Linked DNA regions of Homo sapiens: region 2 is linked to region 1. The links come from fine-mapping of genetic effects on gene expression. A gene starts in region 1. The other region holds a variant in brackets. All regions are shown on one strand. Distances are from middle to middle. Region 1 holds the start of EPDR1 (ependymin related 1). Region 2 has its middle 37 kb from the start of EPDR1.

Region 1 (8,338 bases):
ATACAAATCCTTAATAGAACATGTACGACTGGTGATGAAATAATATTCCAAGATACCAGACTGTGCATATTGTTTTACTGCCTCTCTGCTCACTCTGCATTAAGAGCTTCATTGATTCCAACACCCAAGCCACCATTTTGTAAGGGGGAGCCTATAGTTACTGGTGGCCTGAGAGGGTTCATTGTGTATCAACGCTGCTTCCCCTATAAAGTTCAACATGCTGCCTGAAATATGAAAATCATCTTCTTGATTTCCTTCAGTCTTTCAAATAAATACTTGTGAATTTAATCAAGGAGTCAGAAAAGACAGTTGGAATTAGAAAATAAAATGGTATCAATTACTAATATTTCCCATTTGCTGCTCAGGCTTGTCTTATCTGAAGCTTGTAAAGTTGTTTAATCTTTTCCATCATCTCAGGGAAAACAGAGCCTGGAAAATCCTAGTCATTCCACAGTAACTATCAATGGGATTTTCCATAACTATCTGGATGCAAAATGAAAATCTTAAGAAGTTGATCCAATTCTAAAACTTACTTCTCAACTTACTCATAAATATGAAGAGACAACTCATCCATATTTTCTTCAAATAACATCTGGTTGCTTGGCCAGACTGTTAATACCTGAAAAAGTTTCTGAGTTTGTTCCAACAAATCTACACTTAAAGAGCTTAAAAATGTGTTTATGCATTAAACATTCTTTTCCACATCTGACTTAGGGCCAGCGATGTGACTGTCAGAAAGAACCTTGCCAAGAACTCGGAAAGAAAGGGAAAACAATGTCTTTTAGAAGTTTAACTGTGAAACCAGCACCTATTGGATTAGGGCAGAGGAATGAGAAATCACCGCAAAGGGACAAAAATGCTTCTAAGCCAGCAAGAGTTGGCTGTGACTCCACTAAAGGTATAAAACACACATCTAAAGGCTATATTAGTCAGTCATGGAGTCATGGAAGAAGGGTTGCTCAGACAGACTTGAGCAGTACTCACCAAGGGTCCATTCTGAGTGGAAGGGGTCAGGAACAGCACAGTTGGGGTAGCACAGAACCACCACCAAGTCATCTCTATTGTGAAAATCAATGCATCACTTTGCCTTTGCCTGATTACCATTAAACCTTACCCCAGGCTGGCCTGTCTTATTCATGATGGAAAACTCCACATTGAGCATACAGCCTAACCTAGGGCAGGCAATCATTAGATGTTTGCTCAATGAATTTGCTCCAACTCTTTGCTCACAACTGCCTGATGATAATTTGGCTCCCCACATAGTTCTGACTACAGGGAGAGAATGACCTAGTCTGGTGGATTTGAGAATGCTGGTCCTCATGCCAGCAATAAGACTCATTGAAGTAGACAGGTTTAGCATTTGAGTTTCCTTACTCGAAGGTTGTTCCCAAAGGAAGGGTCTGTGTGTGCTGCTGTATCAAGTTTCTGAGCCCAAAGGGCTGGCAGCAAGTCTCTGGGCTATGGTAACTTTACCAGGATAATGATGATAGTGGTAGCGATGGGACCAACCTTGGCCATGAACAGAGCATCTTGTGCGTACTATCAGACATTGTACTGTATGTTTTATACACTTGAGCTCATTTAATTCCCATAATAATCCAATAAATTAGGCATTATAAGTATTCACATTTTGTAAATGAGGATACTGAGACTCAGAAAGCTTTATTAACTTACCCAAAGACCCATATTCAGAGTCTGGATTCAGATCCAGATTTGTCTGACTCTAAAGTCTAATTTTTTTAATTGTAAAAAAAAAAATACTACCTTTGGAGAGATGAACCCTTATCCTTCTCTTTGACACACTCCTCTGCTTCAGCAGTGTGCTCTCGGCCATCCCAGTCCATCTTCAATATGACTATTCATCAATGCGCCACTACTGTACAAGTCTTCACATAAAATTACATAGGATACCAATGCACCCTTAATTAGAAGTGCACAAAGTCAAGCCCTGTTGCAAGGAACAGCATCACCATCTACCCTATGCCATCAGTACCATTAGCTTCACAAGCCAAAAATGGGGGCCTCTTTAACGTTTTCCTCTCCCTCACCACGCCTGCCACAACCCGTCCAATCATGTACATTTTCCTCAGTTGAACCTCTTCAATACTTCCCTAATGCATTCACTTGCCCCCTGTTCACCATTTCCATCGCTACTACCCATCTCTCACCTGGACCACTACGACAATCTCCAAGATTGTGTTCTCACTTCCACTTTTGCTCCACATGGCTCCATTTTGTGTCCACATCTTGGGAATGCATTCTTAAGGACACATCCAGGGATCTTTATATAATCTAATCACAAATTCCACTGTTTAAAACTCCTCAGTATGACCCTTCGCCATGTCCTGGGCTTCAGCCCTAATAGTGAGTGGTCTGTGGTTTTTGGAATTTACTCAGCTCTAAAAACTCCGGGATGGCACACACATACCAGGCATGGATACACCTGCATCCCCCTGGACCAGCAGTCTCTCCACATCTCCCTGGAAAACCTGTACAGGTGTTTTGGAACTCACTCTCATTTCAGCTCCTCCAGGAAGCCTGGGTTAGGTGCCCAACTGAGTTCTTCTCATCACAACCCCAGCTCTCACCCCTCATCCCACTGTATGGAAATTTTTTTTATTTATGTGACTTCACCTCCAGACTCTGACCTCCCTGAAAGCCAGGAGCCATTCTGTTTATACACAGTGCCTAACATGAACAAATGCTTGTTAAATAAATGAATGAATGTGAACCTGGTATACCATAGGCGTCAGAACCCCCCCCTAGCTTCCTCAAGCATTAGCTGTGTGATCTTAAGAAAGTTGCTTAATCTCCCTAGACCTCAGAGTTATTGTCTGTAAAATGGAGATCATAAAACCTATACTGTCAAGTTATTGTGAGATTTAAACTAAATTATATAATAGATGTAAAGTCCTCAGTGTCATGCCTCATATATAATAAGTATGCAACTGTTAGTTGTTATTATTATTACTGTGCCCTTCAAGACCCTACTGAAAACATTCATGTTCTTGAAAGACTTCGAATCAATTCCCAGTCCACCATGATGACTGTGCTGCTCTGTGCTGCATTTCATAATGCATTATTTTGCACCCTTGATATTGTTTGAAAGGGTCTGCCCTTTCCGTACTTTCTTCAAGTCGCCTAATACTTGAACAAATGCTTTTAGAATAAATGATATTATCAAGTTTGGTTTTGTTCTATAAACTAATGGTGCCCTTTTGCTATAGATCTTACAGTCCATTGGCGTTTCAAACCATGGAAATTCACTTTGCAACTCCTAATGATGCAAATGCCATAAAGAGAGGCCAGTGAGAGGAACACACTTAGGGGGAACGGCAGGGCTCTGGAAGGGAGACAGGTGGTGATCCCAAATTAGAAATCAGGTCTTAAAGGGGCCACAAGCGAGATGACATCTCAAAAAGAGGGTTTCCTTTGTCACAACAGATGTGAAAAGGTGAATGGTCAGACCAATACTTAAAAGAAACTTACAGCTTTGCCCCTGTAAGCGATACTGTGCAGCCATTAAAAATAGGAGGCAAGCTAATAAAATGGCAAATAAGAACATATAAGGGACAATGTTAAGTTAAAAAAAGATTCAGATAACGTATGGCTTTTGATCATAGTATGTAAAATTTGCTTTAAAATAAACAAAAAACTTAAAAGGAGTAGACCAAAATTTTAATGCTGTAACAATTTGCTAAGTTTGTGGGTGAAATTTTCTTTTTATCACTTTCCCATACCGTTTGTAATCTTGCCATATTCTTTTAAAATACAAAAAGTATTTCTTAGAAAATACATATTCTGCGTGCCTCTCTAGCAGATGTCTCTAGAAAGAAATGAGATAGCGCAGAAGACACGCCCTAGACTGCAGGGGGCTCCATGAGCCCAGAGCCTGACTCAGCAGCGTGAGAACAGGGGCGAACCTGGGCATGGGGCACTCTGCAGCTTGATCCCGCCCTGGATGGGTCCCTTCTTTACCTGCCACCGCCTCGCTGGGTGTTACTGAGTCCCCCGCCAGCAGGCCGCCCTCGGTGGGCGCAGCGCCCCTCCCAGTCCCGGACCATGCTATCCCCAAGAGACCCTCCTCGCGAAAGATCTCTCTGGGAGAAGGGAGGAGCTGCAAGGGGCCGGAAAGAGTTACAGGGCGCAGGCCTCTGCGACCTCGCCCTCCCCATGCCCGCGCGGCTCCCTACTCCCGCCCCGCGGGCCGATGACCTGTACCTCTTGCAGGGGATCAGCGCCTTCCTCTCGTCCAGCACCCGCACGCGCTGGTTGAGCCCGTCGTAGGAGAGCAGGGCGCGGCTGTTGCGCCCGCTACTTTGCTGGTACATAACCTGGCGCCCCTCCCACTGCTGCGGCGCCTGGCACGGGCGCGGGGCTCCCACCGCCCCCAGGCTGCACAGGCCGCACAGGGTCCAGGCCCAGAGGCCGCCCAGCAGCCAGGCACCCAGGGCGCCCGGGACGGTGCGGAGGGGAGCGCGTCCTGGCATCGCGGTCAGCCTTCCCCGGCCCGAGGGCAAGCCCAAGCCCAAGGGGGCGCTGAGGCGTCCGGGATCAGAGTGGCTCCCGCCGGCTCTTTCCGCACTGTGCCGGGAGTGTGGTCTGGACCAAAGTGCTTCCTGTCCCTTCGGTGGCCTCTGCCGCTTTTGAGATCCGGACGCGCGAGTCCCGGTAGCCGGGACCAGGGCCCGGGGAAGGCTCCAGTGAATCGCGCGGGAGCTATTTCTGCCTGGGCCACTGCCTGCTGCCACTGCCTGCTGCCACTGCCTTCTGCCGCTTCGGTTTTCACTGCTCACTGCTGCCAACAGGAAATGCAGTGGCAGTGGTGCCACTAGCATCCTGGGAGGCATCGTGTTTTAAGAGGGGGGATGGGGGGAGACTGTGCTGAGAAGTGTGTTTCTCCACTAACTTCAGTGTTCAACAGGTAATCACACAGGGAGGGGCAAGTTCAAGGTCAAGATAGGAAAAGCAGAGCTGCTGCGTTTGCTGTGCAAACGTTTGCCCCGCCTACATTGCCCCTCGACAAAATTGCAAACTTCTTCCTCCAAATTAAAAGTGGAAAGACGAGTCTTTTCCTGAAGAAATGATACTAGCTATTCATCATGGCCGCTCCTCAGCTCCCATTCCCAGTGAAGAGTCTAGGAGACTAGTAGACAGCCCCTTGCATTGGGCCTAGGACTCATGGACATAGCCTCAAGGTCACATTGCAGTGAGACTGCTCCTCCCATCGCCTGGCAATACCACCAGCCGAGTGGTTTGGGTGTCTGGGGGGTTTCGCTTCTTCAAGAATAAGGTTAATTGGGTTTATAGTTATGTAATGTTAGGATCTATAATATGGAATGAGCGAGGCTCACACACCTGTAGTCCCAGCTACTCCTGAGGCTGAAGTGGGAGGATCGCTTGAGCCCAGGAGTTAGAGGTTGCAGTGAGCTATGATCATGCCACTGCACTCCATCCAGCCTGGGTGACATGGCGAGACCCTGTCTCTAAAAATATAGTGATAAAGTATGAAATCAAGAAAAAAGAAAGGAACTAAAAAAATGTATAGCGTCTTTCCATTTGAACTGCATTTCAAGGATGATTAAGATTGAGCCAGGTGAAAGTGGGAGATAACATTCCTGAATGAAGGGCATAAGGACAAGAAAAGAATAATGCTGGGGTTCAAGGACAAGGTAGAGGAGTACTCTGAAGCCATAGCACTCATTTTAAGGAATTTGTCATTGATATTGAGGACTGTGGGAACTATCAATCAATGTAAAGCTAGGGAGGAGCATCATCAGGCATATGCTTTAGAAAGCCCACTTAGACAACAGAAAGGGTAGGGCCAGAGGGAAGGCAGGGAGAGGAGGAAGCTACTGTTATCATCCTGGAAAGAGATGATCCTGACTCAGCTAAGGCAGCGGGAGTGGTCATGGAAAGGGTGGAAGACAGGTGGGAGCTGTAGAGAAGCATTTCAACTCAGAGAGAGAGGTTTCTGGTTTGGGCCACTGGGAATCCAGTCCTGAGTGAGGAGAGATGATCAATTCATTTTAGGATTGGTTGATCTTGAGCTGACTGTGGAGTATTAAGGTGGAAATATCCAAGGGACAGCTGGATAAATACTTCTGGAAACCAGCAGAGCTTTTGGATTAGGAAGCCATAGGTACATAGGTGGTAAATGAAGCCGAAGAGTAGAACAGTGGTTCCTGGGGAAATTTCACATCCCCCTCCCCAGCAAAGAAACATTTGGCAATATCTGGAGACATTTTTGATGATCACAATGTAGATGGGGAGGAGGCTACCGCTGACATTTTGTGGGTAGAGGCCAAGGATGCTACTAAACTTCCTACAATGTGCAGTACAGCCACCTCCCCTCTCCCAAATGAAGAGAAAATTATCTGGCCCCAAATGTCCTAAGTGTTGGGGGTGAGAAAACCTGGAGTTCAGGGGAGTGTTGAGTGTGAGAAGAAGGATTAGGATGGAGCCCCAGAGAGCTCCAGACATTTAAAGGATGGGCAAAGAACAGGCACTTGAGGAGACCAAAAGGAGTCACCAGAGAGAAGCCACTGAATGAGGCAACTTCCCGAGCCTTGTTAAATAAATGTAAGGCATGGAAAGAATGGACTGAATGCTGAAGTAGGGTGTTCTAGAATCACAGCCTCCCTGGAAGTCCCGAAGAGGAGGGACAGTTGACAGGTTTTCCTGATGCATCCTTCTCTGCTGCCCCCTGTCTGTCGAACCACCAGAGACACTACCAATGGGCCGAATGGGGCAGGCACAAAGCTTTAGGAAGAAGGGCTCTTCATTTCCTCTTACCTTTTCTTAAAGGGCATGCCTCAGAGAACATCAGGGAAGCCCATAAGACTTTGTGACTTGGTACTTACATAGTTAAACAGATGCAGCAGGTTCAAACTGGCTGCAGAAATTTGAGCCCTCTCCGAGTTTGCCCTGCTCAGATTCATAGGAAAAGTGTAGGGTAGTTCAGCTCTTTCTCTTGCTCCCCAGGTAGGAACTCCAGCTGAAAATCTTTTTCACCCAGTGAAGGGTTTAGACTCATTGGAGTTTACTGCTAGAAATGGCTTGAGATGTCATCTGGGCTTTCCTCCTCATGTGATATTTTACTAGCCTGGCTTGGCATCTTTGGAGGTGGAGACTGGTTCTATAGGAACTAGATTACCTTTCTAGAGTGGCTTGGCAGTGTAAGAACACCCTGGGCTTCCCCTAAATAAGAACCAGACTCTTTGGATGAATCCTGAAATGTATTTGTCTCATTTATCCTTTTCACTTACTATGTTTAATTCATGTTCCCTAAAAAATAAGATAATGCATTTAAAGTTCTTAGCTTCATACCTTGACCATTGTAAATTCCCAATAGATGTCACTTGTGCTTGTTGTTTCCTCAGCTGTTTTAATCCTTAGTCTTTAGTTTTAATCCTCAGTCAAAACTAAACTAATTGTGTAGGTTTAAGCTTTGGAGAGAAAAACCATGTGCCTTAAATTCAAGTTAAACTATGTTTTTAAAGATTAACATTCAGAGAACATGTTTCCATATTGCTGATGCCCTAATAAATAGCATATACCAGAAGTCTTACCACCTGAAGATTGATATACATCAATCTCATATAAATAAATCCTCCCTTTTCTGTAGATAGCTGAGCCAGCAATTGGACTACCTTTTCCTAATGCAAGTAAGATAAAAGAGAAAGCAAAACATACATACTTGCATCCCATAGTACACAGCTTCTTACTCAACTCAAGCAACAGTCTCTGAGCACATCAAAAATCAAGATTTTAGGCTGCTGAGGTGGAAATCCTTTGGCATGAAGGATCAGAGCAGGGGAGACCTTTCAGATTGTGGTGCCCAATGTTTTCTCCTGGGTTCCACTAATGCTGCAGAGGGGAACAGGGAGTTAGAAGGAAGAGGAAATGTTAGAAGACATTTCTGAAGCTGGAAGATGCTAGCACACCTTCCCCCAGTTCTGTTAACTTCCTGGAGCAGAAACAAACCAAGTGTTATACTGGAAAAATTTCGGCCCAAACTGTCTACTAGCAACAACAACAACAAACCACACTCCACACAACTAAGGGCGGAGTGGGAGTGATTTATACAACGTGACCCTCCTGTTCTGACATTCACTGCACTCTCGCCTGCCTTGCAGGACATTGTCCCAACTGTCCTCAGCGCTCCTCATGCCCCCTACCGGAGAAAGCAAATATATTTCAGAATTAGAGGGCAGCAGAAGCTCCTATTTTCCCCCAACTCTATACTTGGAAAAACTCTAAGGCAGAGGGAGCAAAGTTCAGTTTTCAGCCAAAGAGTGTCTTTCTCTCTCTTGAAATTCTCTCCCGCACCCTCTTG
Region 2 (8,338 bases), 36 kb before region 1:
GTGGTGCACGCCTGTAATCCCATCACTTTGGGAGGTCGAGGCAGATGGATCACGAAGTCAAGAGGTTGAGACCATCCTGGTCAACATGGTGAAACTCTATCTTTACTAAAAATACAAACATTAGCTGGGCATGGTGGCGGGTGCCTGTAGTCCCAGCTACTCAGGAGGCTGAGGCAGGAGAATCACTTGAACCTGGGAGGCGGAGGTTGCCCTGAGCCAAGGTCACGCCACTGGACTCCAGCCTGGCAACAGAGCAAGACTCCGTCTCAAAAAAAAAAATTATCTTCAAACTTTTTTCTGTCTAAGCAGATGCTCAAGTGAGTAACAAGATGCTAGTCTCCCCAGAGGATGGACAAACATATTCAGTTTCATGAGCAGAGTGGGGTAGGGATGGCAGATGCACTTTTGAAAACTGCACACCCAGCGAGACTTACTTCACATTCCGTGGCTTAAAAGAAGGAGGATGAGATATATGCAGGAGTTAGTGGTAGAGCCAAGTCTTCATTAGTGCCTCTCAGTAAAAGCAGGAGGTGGCTGGTGGCTCTCTAAACATTGTCCTTGGCTTTGAGCCATGAAAACAGGAAAAATTTTGTTTGATATCCTATTATATAGCATCACAGACAGACACAAACTTGCATATATACACATTTTTCATAATTAATAGAAGTTTCTTCATTGTTCTAATAGCATGCACACACACGGTATTCCACTAGACACTAGATTAAGAGGTTTCCTCCTGCTGCTGTTATCTAGTTCTCTGAATATTATGTAAATTTAATCACGACAAAACTCAACTGGATTTCCTCAACTCCTCCTTCCTCCCTCACCTTACCACAGCTAATTGAACAAGTCCCACTTACTGCTTCCAAACATGCCCTGACCCTGGTGCCTTTTCCCCATTCCCCTGCAGCCACCCCCTTGAAAGCCACCATGCTCTCTCTCCCAAGCTGCTGCACTCCTGCTCACCGGTCCTCTCACCTTCTCTCTCACACCCCTTCCATCCATTTCCACACGGCAAACAGGAGGATCTTAGAAAATATAAACCAGATTTTGTGAATCATCACTGAAAACCTTTCAACAACTTCCCATTGGCCTTAGAATGAAGTTTAGACTCATTGCTGTGGCCACTCCAGCATGTGAGGTCTGGCCTTCCCTTGTCTGTTTTGTCTCATCTGGATCCACTCTCCTTGAAAGTCTCAGCCACCAAACTCCATCTACTTGGCCTGTACAGTTCCTCAAACAAGATGAACTCCTTGCAGCCTCAGCCTTTGCTTTAACTGTTCCCTCTACCTAGAATGTGACCTATTGGATCTTCTCCTGACAAGCTTCTTTCTGACATTGGAAACTCAAGTTAAAGGGCACCTCGTCAAAGAGGCTGTACCCGACCATCCCCATCGTAAGGTGCTATTTATTCACCATATTCCTTTAGCCTCTTTCCATTAACTGGGTGATTATTGTCATTCTCTGGCTTTTAAAATTCTCTGTGTGTCATCTGTCTCCTTCTCAGCAGAATGCAGGCTTCCTGAGGGCAGGACCTTGTCCTTGACTGTCTCCCCAGTGCCTAGAAGACAGTCTTGCATGTAGGAGGGCCTCAGTAATGCTCAATGAATGAATGGATTCTTGATCATTTCAAGCAAGTGATACTTCTTTAGTCTGAAAACTACAATCCTCAGATCTTCTTCTCTCTTTTGGGGATTTCATTAACTGTTCACCAGTGGCCCCATTGCCTGTCCTATTTCACTCTTGGTTGCTGCTAGAATTTGTATTATCTGACATCGATTCAGGGAAAGAGGTGCTGTTGAACAGTAGTGGGATGAAAATTGAGGATAAAGGGGTGGCTTCAGCTGCCCCCAGTACAACTCTCTCAGTAAAAAGATGACTGCTGGCTTTCTGATTGATGGGCCAGACTTTTGGCAGAAGTGGCAACAGTGCATGCCAACATTTTTCTACCTTACTCCTGCTTGCCCCGGCACCTTTCAAAGCCTGGAAATGGAATGGCCATGACCTTGCTGAGCCATGACCCTTGAGGGCCAGTTAGTGAAAATTCTTGCACAGGTTGGCATACTGCTGATGGGTACTTCTTGTTTCTGGTGCCAAAAAATAACTTAATATATTGTGACTCTACACCCTTTTTGTGCTTAAATGGAAGTGTGACCATGAAGTTTGGGGAAAGTTAAGGTTTCACCACAGCGTAAAAGCCTACAGGCATTGCTGGCAATCTAACAAAGGTGATATTGAAATAGTTTTATTTTAAGCTCATATCATTCAAAATCAGCTTTAGAGAAATGTTTTAACGTATTCCCCAGTCTTTTCTTCACTTAGTCAACATGACTTCTATAAGTAATGCACAAATAGCATGCAACCAGTAAATAAAATCATAGTTGAAAATTATTATCAATTATCCTCCCAAGTCAAGTGCATTTGATGTGGACTTCTGTCTTCTAATCTATGAGATGGGCATAATAACAATAGTAGCTAATTCAAAGATGGTTGTTGAGGTTGAATAAAATAATCAGTATAAAACTCTGGAGAGAATGTGACACAAAACAAGTGCTCACTGATGTAGATTGAGGTTGATACTACTGTTATTTTCTCTATCTTAAAAATGTTGGCCGGGCGCGGTGGCTCACGCCTGTAATCCCAGCACTTTGGGAGGCCGAGGCGGGTGGATCATGAGGTCAGGAGATCGAGACCATCCTGGCTAACAAGGTGAAACCCCGTCTCTACTAAAAATACAAAAAATTAGCCGGGCGCGGTGGCGGGCGCCTGTAGTCCCAGCTACTCGGGAGGCTGAGGCAGGAGAATGGCGTGAACCCGGGAAGCGGAGCTTGCAGTGAGCCGAGATTGCGCCACTGCAGTCCGCAGTCCGGCCTGGGCGACAGAGCGAGACTCCGTCTCAAAAAAAAAAAAAAAAAAAAAAATGTTATGTGCAAAATGCCAGGGTTCATGAGAGATGTATTTATTAAGGGGAAGTTGCTGGGGTTTTTTTTTAAACTACATGTATATTATACTTGACGTTGCCTGAGCATGGCTAGAGGTGGGTGCATGTTTCTGCACACGAATGTGAGCAATGAGGAACAGACAGAGATACCTTAGGGAATGGTTTAGCTGACGGGTCCAGCAGAGCCCACTGAGGGCACTGCCTTTGTAGGCCTCCAGGACCCTGCTCTAATCCATAGCAGATTCATACAGTCATACAGGTTTGATTTTGTTGGTCCATGGAGGGTTGATCAGGATCTCAGGGGGAAAGAAGCCAGAGGTAGAAGACATCTAATATTTTGAGTGCTGATTGCCTGCAAAGCTGTGTGCTACACACGTTCTAATGCTATTTCATTTAACCCTAACAACCCCCATATGCCACCTTTTTTGTTTGTTCGTTTGTTTGTTAGAAGTGGAGGAAACTTAGGTTCATAGACTGTTCAAATGACTTGTCCACGGTAACACAGTGGTAATGGCGGACAGAATCAGCATCTGAACTCAGGTAAGTATGGTTTCAAATCCTCATCCTTTCTACTACACTGCACAGCCTCCCTTACAGACTGACATGCACTAAGCAATTTAACTTAAGAGACTGGGAAATAAATCAGAAAAACATTGCATTATTTTGCAATGATGTTTTAAACTTTTCCAGTGAGTGAAATACTTAAATCTGCCATTTTGGATATTCAGTTATGATTTTAAAAAATTACTTGAGAAGTAAAATTTCTAATCAGAAGAAAAGTTACCTAGTTTGGAGGGATCATTCTGAGCTTATTGGATTCTGCTTGACCAACAGGCCTGGCCAAATCTCTCTGTTTTGGATGTTCCTCCCATGCAGGTTAGCTACTGCTCTGACCAGCCCAAGGTCTGAGGAAGGCAGCATTGGGCACCAAGGCACAAACTTCTTTCCTTGTCCTTGCTCCTTTTCCTCTGTCGCCAGTGGGTCTACTCTGTGTGCCCTTTTGCTGACCTGGGAGCGGTAAGATCTACTTGTGTTGGGACTTGCAGTAGAATGGACAGAACTAGTAATTTGGCCTGCTCTGGCCTGCGGCTACTTTGGCCTCCACTTCCTCCAGTTGGTCTAGCCTGATTGACCAGACGTCCACAGAAGTGCTCGGGGCCAGAGCTCCAGCTAAGTAACGGTGATGACTTGCTTTGCTGTCTCCTGACCTTGCTCTGTTGTGGATCCCTGACAGGGAGAGTGAAGTGAAATATTCCTAAATCTTAGGCAAAATAATGACACATGACTTTAATCTCATAATTGTCCCCAACATTCTGTATATGACTGCCAGATTCCACATTTTTCTCTCCTGGACACAGTTAGATAAACACTGCCAAATCCTTGGTTTTAAGATTCCCTAACTAAACTCCATGTAAACCAACATCCTTCTGCGAAAACACTTCATTTTCAGACGAAATTACAACATTCCAGTGTTCTTTTACATCAGCCCCAATTCTGATTAAACTTTGATGAGACTGCATTTCAATGGCAATCTTGCTTTCATCGGACTTCATGATTTCTCCAGTTTTATAGCCCCAAACTTGAAGACCTTCTCTTTCTGTGATGTATATCTCTAAATAGCTACTTTATCCATTTATTAGGTATCAGTCCTATATTTTCAATCACAGAGCTTAATCTTATTTCCAACTTTGGGGCACCTAAATTTAGTCTATTTATGCCTGACTTTGTTAAGTTGATTTGTTGATGACCACTCTTCTAGAGACACATGGAAAATTTGTTAACAAACTTATTTTTGAACAGGATGGTTGTACTGAATGATTACATATGGCAGGAGTCTGGGGAAAATTTTTACTTATCTCCATTCT[A/G]GGGACATCTACTGCAAATTCCATAATAGACTCTCATTCCTCTATTATCTGAGCTATTTGAATTACCTCAATAAAGCTGTTTCCTCCTCTTTCTTCACTCAGGAAATACAGAGTTCTCATGACTGAACAGGGAAAGTAAGAGGTTTAGAAAGAATAAGATGGATCTGAGAGTTTTCAAAATCACTTGATAACCCATTATTATCCAAAGACTACCTACATAATCATATACTTTCCATACAAAGTTAAACTTAAAAAGTCCTTTGAGGTTCAATACCTACACACTTGAATACACCATAATACTGAACTTTAGTTGTTTTGAGAAGACAAAATAAAACTCATTTTAAATGTATTGAACTGAAAAGGCAGAGAAATTATTCCCTGAACAAGCAGGCTTTCTTTTTAAGGCTATTTTTATTCCTCATTGAATGTCAACATGTACTATGAGGTACATAGACATGGAAATAATTCTAAATTTCTGACAGGCGGGGCCAATGGTTCATGGTTCAGGAAAGAACGTTTAGTCTGGAAATGCTCTAATTTAGAGAAACTTAAAGGGGAGGCAACTGAACTGAAAATCTCTAAAGTGCTGCTCCATTGTGGCTTGTGCTACTCTCATGTTTATTCATCTGTATACATCAACAGCCCTTTGGACTGAGAATTTATGGTGATAAATGTTTTCTCCTCCTCCCCTACATCCTTCTTTTTTCTTCTTCCATTCCTCTTCCTTCTCTTTCTTCTTCTCTTCTTCCTCTTCTTTTTCTCTTCTCCTTCTCCTTCTCCCTCTTCCTCTTCCTCTTCCTCCTCTTCCTCTTCCTCCTCCTCCTCCTCTTATTCTTCTTCCTCTTCCTCTTCTTCTTCTTCTTCTTCTTCCTCTTCTTCTTCGTGTCCTCCTCCTCCCCTTCCTGCTCCTTCTTCTTCACCTCTTTTTGCTGCTTGGGATATAGTTAGTTTGAGCTAGATAGGATTATAGGATTGCTATCATCATGATATTTTTTGTATTAAGGATAGGACATATATGGATCTAAGTAACGTCTTCAGTCCCAAGATGTTTGAAGTTTTAAAATACATCTAAACATCTTTGCAGTGCTATTAGTTATTTTTTATGTGATAAGAGTTATGGTGATAGGAACATAGGTTTACCTGGAGGAAATTATGAAAGGTGTTAAGTACAGGGAGGTTTAAGTTATAAGAAACATCATAAAAACATACACTTTTCCTGGGCTTGAGATGATGTCATTTTGCCCACTCCCATTATTCTAATGTCCACTTTAAGGTTATTAAAATGTCCTAAGATCATTCAAGACAGGGCAGTCTACATCTTCACTTCATTATCCCCAAGCCCTCAGAGATGCCACAGCTACTGAGACAAGGTCACCTAACACTTTAGAATCAGAAAGTTCTTTAAAAGCAAAGGGCTCTTCTGAAAAGAGACTAAATTGCAACTGCTTCCCGTATGTGCCCATCAACTAATGTGATCACAGAACTGCTTTAGAAACAACTTTTATCTTAGTTTTTTCCTCATCAAAGATTTTCAATTTAGTTTTTACACATTTTAATTTTTCTTAAAAAAGAATCCCCCATTTTATAATTGAATTTAATATAAAACTAAGCTTTGCTAAAATGCACTTATATAATAAGAGAGGACAGATATACCACGATCCCGCAAGAAAGGTATCATTTCTGGTATCAGGAGTGAAACAAAACCAACAGACCCTAAGTTTTTCTAATACATATATCAATACCCACATGTCTATCCCAAAACTACACTTTTAATTAAGCAGGTTTGTGTATTTGGTTAACTGGGGACTTTTCAATAGTTAGATTGGTGCCTCCTGATTGGGAAACTAAGACCAGTGATTTCCCAACAGGTATTCTCCCAGGCTGACTGAGAAACTAATCAACTAGGGCTGAGAGGTTATTAAGTAACATATTCTAGGCTTGAAAACCCATTTCTCACAATAACAGATAATGCCTTGACTTCTTTTTTTTACATAATTTTCTTTATTAAAATCATAGAGGTTATGTAAAAATGGCAATAATGCTAGTAATGTTTAAGTAACAAGAGTACCTATTTTGCCATCAGTTATCTTGGTGAAGGAAAGGAATACTTAGCTGTGTGATTTAAACAGTTGTATGTTAAAATAAATATACAATATGCCATTGGGAATGATATAACTGCAACCACAACACAACACATGCATATACTCAGATTACTTAAATCCTGAGTGTGTTGTATTCATTGCACATTATTTCTTTTTAAAAAAGTTATTATTATTATTTATTATTATACTTTAAGTTCTGGGGTACATGTGCAGAACGTGCAGGTTTGTTACATAGATATACACGTGCTGTGGTGGTTTGCTGCACCCATCAACCCATCATCTACATTAGATATTTCTCTTAATGCTATCCCTCCCCTAGCCCCCCACCCCCTGGCAGGCCCCAGTGTGTGATGTTCCCTTCCCTGTGTCCATGCGTTCTCATTGTTCAACTCCCACTTATGAGTGAGAACATGTGGTGGTTGGTTTTCTGTTCTTGTGTTAGTTTGCTGAGAATGATGGTTTCCAGCTTCATCCATGTCCCTACAAAGGACATAAACTCATTCTTTTTTATGGCTGCATAGTATTCCATGGTGTATATGTGCCACATTTTCTTTATCTAGTCTAACATTGATGGGTATTTGGGTTGGTTCCAAGTCTTTGATATTATTTCTAAATTATAGGATAGTTATAGCCCACTCCTTGAATGCTGAGACTACATTATATTTTCCAACTTTAAATATGAAATAAATATTGAAAATAAGTGTTCATTTTTGCTCTAATGAAAACAGTATAAATTTTAAAATTAGGATATCATTAAGGGAAGCATCTCTCTCCCTGAATAAACTATACAACAAATCATAGGCCCAGTATTTTTTCTACACATGCAGTTGAGCTAATAATTCTGCTTTAAAACAAATAAAAATATGTTCTAATCATTTATTATCTTAGCATCATTCCAAAAAGAGATGGTTGTTGATATCAGAATATCCATAAATAAAGTTAAATTTGTCTCTTAAAGAGGTGTTCACCTACAAAGCCTTCAAATATCACCAGTTATTCACAAGTCTTTGGCTGAGGAGGCTTACTCTGTCATTCAATATAAATTATTTTCACTCAACAAGAATGACAAGAATGGCATTCCTGCATTTGAGGTGCTTTCTGTGGATGTAGAAAGACAAGATCTACGTAAGTGGAAAAATGTAAAAACACCCCATATGCTGCAGGTAGATATATAGGCAAAGTGATTTAAAATAACAGAGGCAACATTGAGAAAATGAAGGCTTTTATTTGTTTGTTTGTTTGTTTGTTTGTTTGCTTATTTGAGACAGGGTCTCTCTCTGTTGCCCAGGTTGGAGTGCAGTGGTGCAATCTTGGCTCACTGCAATCTCCACCTCCTGGGGTCAAGCGATTCTCCCAGCTCAGCCTCCTGAGTAGCTGGGACTGCAGAGAAAGTGGATTTGGTAAAGGAAACCCAGCAAGAGGTGAGCGTT

The links. PIP is the estimated chance that this variant, and not a neighbour inherited with it, causes the effect. A credible set is the group of variants that fine-mapping cannot tell apart.
Region 2: its variant is the best candidate, but not a certain one, in a credible set for the expression of EPDR1 in whole blood (INTERVAL, PIP 0.50).

What each region holds. Positions count from the first base shown.
Region 1 is chr7:37,917,092-37,925,429 of GRCh38, reverse strand. It overlaps EPDR1 (ependymin related 1), which reads right to left and starts at 4,790. Exons shown (of 3, transcript NM_017549.5): 1 at 4,222-4,790. The coding sequence starts at 4,490. RefSeq lists a silencer at 4,096-4,545.
Region 2 is chr7:37,953,493-37,961,830 of GRCh38, reverse strand. No RefSeq gene overlaps it. Among named protein-coding and RNA genes, the nearest start is that of EPDR1, 37 kb to the right of the region's middle. The variant A/G (reference allele first, on the strand shown) is at 4,807.